Linked DNA regions of Homo sapiens: region 2 is linked to region 1. A link means that fine-mapping ties the variant in region 1 to the expression of a gene that starts in the linked region. Tissue or cell type: Th2 cells. Region 1 holds a variant in brackets; the other region holds the start of a gene. All regions are shown on one strand. Distances are between the middles of the regions.

Region 1 (2,836 bases):
CCCACCTCTTTGACAATGATGGCACGGTGGTGTTCGCCATCTTCATGGCTCTCTGGGGTGAGTTGCTGCGGGACGCCTCTGCGGGGCCAGGGGAAGTGCCAGCCCAAGCTCCGAGGTCCACCTGGCGTAGTGCAGTGATGCCCCTCCTTGCCCCCGCCGCAGCCACGGTGTTCCTGGAGATCTGGAAGCGGCAGCGCGCCCGCGTGGTCCTGCACTGGGACCTGTACGTGTGGGACGAGGAACAGGTGAGGTGGAGCTGGCAGCGCAGCTGAGGCCGACCCGAGCAGGGGCTGTTGGCGCCCGATGCCCTGCACGGCCCACATATGCCTGCCGTGTCTGAGGTGTGTGTCCCGAGTCTGTCTCCCCACATGTGGGGCGTGTGTCCTGGTCTGTCCACCTGTGAGGCGTGTCCCTGTGTCTGTCTCCCCACGTGTGGGGTGAGTGTCCCGTGTCTGTCCACCCGTGAGGCGTGTCGCTGTGTCTGTCTCCCCACGTGTGGGGTGCGTGTCCCATGTCTGTCTCCCCATGTGTGGGGTGAGTGTCCCGTGTCTGTCCACCCGTGAGGTGTGTCCCTGTGTCTGTCTCCCCACGTGTGGGGTGAGTGTCCCGTGTCTGTCCACCCGTGAGGCGTGTCCCTGTGTCTGTCTCCCCACGTGTGGGGTGAGTGTCCCGTGTCTGTCCACCCATGAGGCATGTCCCTGTGTCTGTCTCCCCACGTGTGGGATGAGTGTCCCGTGTCTGTCCACCCGTGAGGCGTGTCCCTGTGTCTGTCTCCCCACGTGTGGTGTGAGTGTCCCGTGTCTGTCCACCCGTGAGGCGTGTCCCTGTGTCTGTCTCCCCACGTGTGGGGTGCGTGTCCCGTGTCTGTCTCCCCATGTGTGGGGTGAGTGTCCCGTGTCTGTCCACCCGTGAGGTGTGTCTCTGTGTCTGTCTCCCCACATGTGGGGTGAGTGTCCCTTGTCTGAGGCTTGCCCGGTGCTCTCCCCAGGAGGAAATGGCACTTCAGCTCATTAACTGCCCCGACTACAAGCTCCGGCCATACCAGCACTCCTACCTACGCAGCACCGTCATCCTCGTCCTGACCCTGCTCATGGTACGCAGGGGACACCGCGGTGGGGCTGGAGACCCGGGCTGCATGCCCTCCCC[G/A]GCCCCCGCCCACCACAGCTGTCCCGCAGATCTGCCTCATGATCGGCATGGCCCACGTCCTGGTGGTCTACCGCGTCCTGGCCTCCGCGCTCTTCAGCAGCTCGGCCGTGCCCTTCCTGGAGGAGCAGGTGACCACGGCCGTGGTGGTGACCGGGGCTCTGGTGCACTATGTGACCATCATCATCATGACCAAGGTGGGGCCGGGAGCAGGGCAGGCCCGAGCTGGGGGGTCCACCGGAGCCCCAGTGAGCCCATTCGGTGCCCTCCTCCGCAGATCAACAGGTGCGTGGCCCTGAAGCTTTGTGACTTCGGTGAGAGGACTACCCCAGACCCTCTTGGGGGACCCGGCGGGAGGACTCAGGGCTGGGGCCTTGGGGCTGTGGTCAGAGAGCAGGGGAGGGGACCCTTCCTGCTGCCCCAGGGCCTCTCCTATGAGCAGGGAGAGAGGTGAGGGCCGGTCCCATTCCAGAGATGCCCAGGACCTTCTCGGAGCGAGAGAGCAGGTTCACCATCCGCTTCTTCACACTGCAGTTCTTCACCCATTTCTCGTCTCTCATCTACATCGCCTTCATCCTGGGCAGGTAGGGCCGGCGCCAGGCTCCCTCCAACCCAACTCACGAGGGCTTGTTCCACTGCCTTTAAAGTGGCAATGTCCATTCTTTTAATTTTAAAAGTAATTTCTGCTGAGAGCAAGTGGAAATCCAATCTAGAGACATGTGAGCAAAGCCTGCAGTGAGCCCAGCTCCTGAATCCCGGGCCCCGAGGTAGCATCAAGACAGTCTGGTGGCCTCCCAGGCTTTTTCATGCATTTGCAGGCGCATAACAGCACTGGCAGAAATGGCTTTGTCCTGGGAATAACTGCACCTGCTCTTTATGCTGAAAATGCACTTGGTGTCTTCCTGGGTCTGCCTGCCCACACATCCTCGTATACATGTATATATGAGAGAGAGAGAGAGAGAGACAGAGACAGGGTCTTGCTGTCGCCAGGCTGGTGTCCAGTGGCACAATGTTGGCTCACTGCAGTCTTGACCTCCTGGGTCTCCTGAGTAGCTGGGATTACAGGCGTGCACCACCACACCCAGCTAATTTTAATATTTTTTGTAGAAATGGGGTCTCACCGTGTTACCCAGGCTGGTTTCGAATTCCTGGGCTCGAGCGATCCTCCTGCCTCAGTTTCCCAAAGTGTTAGGATTTCAGGCGTGAGCCACTGCACCTGGCCAAAAAAAGGTGCATATGGATTGATGGAGCCAGAAAGACTCATTTCACTAATTAGGAAGGCGAGGTGAGAGGGATGCTGGCTGCAGCTTTACTTTTTTTTTGAGATGGAGTCTCGCTCTGTCGCCCAGGCTGGAGTGCAGTAGCATGATCTTGGCTCGCTACAACCTCTGCTTCCTGGGTTCAAGCAATTCTCCTGCCTCAGCCTCCTGAGTGGCTGGGACCACAGGTGCGCACCACCACACCCAGCTAATTTTTGTATTTTTTGTAGAGAAAGGGTTTCACCATGTTGGCCAGGCTGGTCTCGAGCTCCTGACCTCAGGTGAGCCACCACGTCTGGCCCTGTAGATGCTGGTTCTTGACCCCCATCCGTCTTGGGAAAGGCGTGCACCATGGCTTGCTGTGGGCCACGTCTCTCCTGGTGGGACCTCTCACTCTGGAAGCTCCTGCGGGTGAACCCTGGTCTCCTGTCTGG
Region 2 (2,500 bases), 110 kb before region 1:
TGGACTGATCCCCTGACTGCACTCCCCACCCAGCCTTCCCAGATTTATCTTCCTGATGAGACGAGTTCCCTTCGGAGCCCTGTGTGTCTTACTACGTGTTCGGTTGAGGGCCTGCCTCGCCCCAGAGCTGTGGGCTGCACGTGGCCTGCACGTGGCCTGCGTGCTCCTCTGCTGTCCACAGTCGCAGGAGGGGATGCTCAAATATTTGTCGAAGGAATCCGTGAACAGGCAGATGCACATGTAGCCACTTAGAACGTTCTGGCCATGGCTTTTATCTGTTGACCACGTGTGGACACTGAAGATGCATCCTCTCCATCCCGTCTAGAGCTGCCCCTGTGCCAGGCGAGTTGGCCGGCTGTTGACAGAGGTGGTGGGTGGGAGTGTTGGAGCGGGGCAGTGGCTCAGGCTCTGGGTGCCTCACTGGCCTGGTCTGGAAGGTGACCATGCACCAAGGATCAAAGAAGTGAAGCCCAAAGCAGAATCTCATGGAGTTTCCAGCCCAAATCTCCCCCACTGCCTGCCTTTCTCCAGCCAGTGCAAGGCCCCAGGCCTCACAGCAGGACCCCAACACTGCATCCCCCCAAAGACTCTGGCCACCTCCATCCCAGGCCTGCCAGCCTCGAGCCTCATGGAGGGCGTGAGCTGGCGGGGTCACGGGCAGCCCCTGGACACCTATGGGTGACACTAAGGGCTGAGTCAGCTACCCTTGTCTCCTCTGTGCCCAAGAGCCCCAAGCATCAGACTGGTCTGAGCCCCAAGGCCTGGGGGTGCAAGGGGTTGGAGGCTGTGGGATCCAAAGACCCCATTGAACTCCCACCTCAGACACTGCACCTAGTGTTCTCACCCAGGCCTGAACCCATCCACACACTTCACGGCCCTGCTCCCACCCTGTGTCCCCTCTGCAAGCCCCCATGCTCCCCAAATTGGTAACTGGGGGGCCTGTCTCCACACCCCTGCTAGTGCCATTCCCTGGTGGGTAGCCATCACCTCTGGGTCCCCTGCTGCCCTCGCCCCTTCACCATGGGGGCTCGGAAGGCAGAGCCCGCTCCCCTCCTGAGCCCCACCCTGGAACCCTGAGCACCCTGGGTCATTGCCTCTGAGTCTCCCTCAGGGGCAGGGCTTGGGGCCCCTCCTGTCTCCTGACAGGGAGCCCTTTCAGTGCAGGGCCAGGGGGTGGTGGAGGCAAGGGTCCTCAGGGGACCAGATCTGACATGCGGGGCCATCACTGGGTCCCCGATGGCTGTGCTGCTTCGTCCCCGCGCCCACGCCTCGGCGCAGGTTCCCTCCTGGCACCGGTCATAGGGCGAGGCTTGCGGCTCCCACCCCAAGGGTGCGCTCGGCTCTCACCTGAGGGCTCAGCCTAGGTGTCCGGCCCTGGCAGCTCGGCCCTGGGCGCCCTCCACCTCCAGGCGCTGTCTCCTACTCCAGGCTGTTCTTCCGGCCGCCGCGGGGTTGCGGCCTGGGCGCCATAGCAACGGGAGCCAGGCCTCATTTGAATACGCAAATATTTATAAGTCGCCGGGGGCTCGGGTTCCGTGCGGCTGAGCCACGCCCCTTAGCAACGGTCGCTAGGGCGGGGCCACGTGGACTGGCACGTGCGTGGGCGCCCCTGCTGCGGGCGATCCCAGGGGAAGGTGACGCGCCACCAACTCGAGTTGGGTGGGCGCAGGCGCGTCAGGTGCCAGCTTCCTGCGGCTCCGTGCCTGGGCCGTCGCGATGCACGTGTCGCGTTTCCTCGCGATCCTGGCGCTTCCCACGCGGGGCGGGTAAAGGCGGTCTCTGCTGGAGGCTCGCGCCCACCTTTCCCAGGTGGAAGGGTCGCCCCTGGGGCCGAGGCCTGCCGTCCTGACCTTCGGTTGGAAGTGAGGCCGACGGCAAAAGGAAGCACCGGGGGAAGCGCCCCCGAGGACCAGGAAACACACACCGGACGCCGGAGCGCACCCGAGTGCCCGGCCCGCGGGACACGCTGCCGCCCGCCGTCCAGTCGCCGCTTCTCACTCGCGTTCATGCGTGTCCGCCCCGAGCCGAGCTCTGACTGCGACCGCGCGGTGGACGGACGGCAGGCGGGACCCCCGGGACCGCACGTGGGTGGAGCCCCGGGTCAGCAGCGACCGGCGCAGGAGGGCGAGGCGGGCGCTGGACTGGGCAGAGGCAGGGTTTGCCTGACTGTAAAACGCCTTTTTTGTTTTGAGACGAAGTAGCGCTCTGTTGCCCAGTGCAGTGGCGCGATTTCGGCTCACCGCAACATCCGCCTCCCGGGTTCCAGCGATTCTCCTGCCTCAGCCTCCCGAGTAGCTGGGACTACAGGCGCGCGCCACTGCAGCCGACTAATTTTTTGTGTTTTTAGTAGAGACAGGGTTTCATCATGTTGGCCAGGCTGGTCTTGAACTCCTGACCTCAAGTAATCCACCCGCTTAGGCCTCCCGAAGTGCTGGGATTATAGGCGTGAGCCACCGCGCCCGGCCCTTTTTGTTTTTTAATGAGGATGTATTTCTGATTC

Direction of the effects. Positions count from the first base shown, and alleles are read on the strand shown. Sizes are in standard deviations (SD) of each study's normalised expression.
In carriers of allele G in region 1, the expression in Th2 cells of the gene that starts at base 1,426 in region 2 tends to be higher than with A alone (large effect, 1.6 SD a copy in Schmiedel 2018).

The links. PIP is the estimated chance that this variant, and not a neighbour inherited with it, causes the effect.
Region 2: LRRC56 starts here. The variant in region 1 is fine-mapped to the expression of LRRC56 in Th2 cells (Schmiedel 2018, PIP 0.95).

What each region holds. Positions count from the first base shown.
Region 1 is chr11:426,979-429,814 of GRCh38, reverse strand. ANO9 (anoctamin 9) reads left to right here. Exons shown (of 23, transcript NM_001012302.3): 10 at 1-57; 11 at 163-245; 12 at 989-1,093; 13 at 1,176-1,340; 14 at 1,421-1,457; 15 at 1,616-1,727. Among named protein-coding and RNA genes, the nearest start is that of SIGIRR, 13 kb to the right of the region's middle. RefSeq lists an enhancer at 70-1,269. The variant G/A (reference allele first, on the strand shown) is at 1,147.
Region 2 is chr11:536,453-538,952 of GRCh38, reverse strand. It overlaps LRRC56 (leucine rich repeat containing 56), which reads right to left and starts at 1,426. Exons shown (of 14, transcript NM_198075.4): 1 at 1,348-1,426; 2 at 93-355.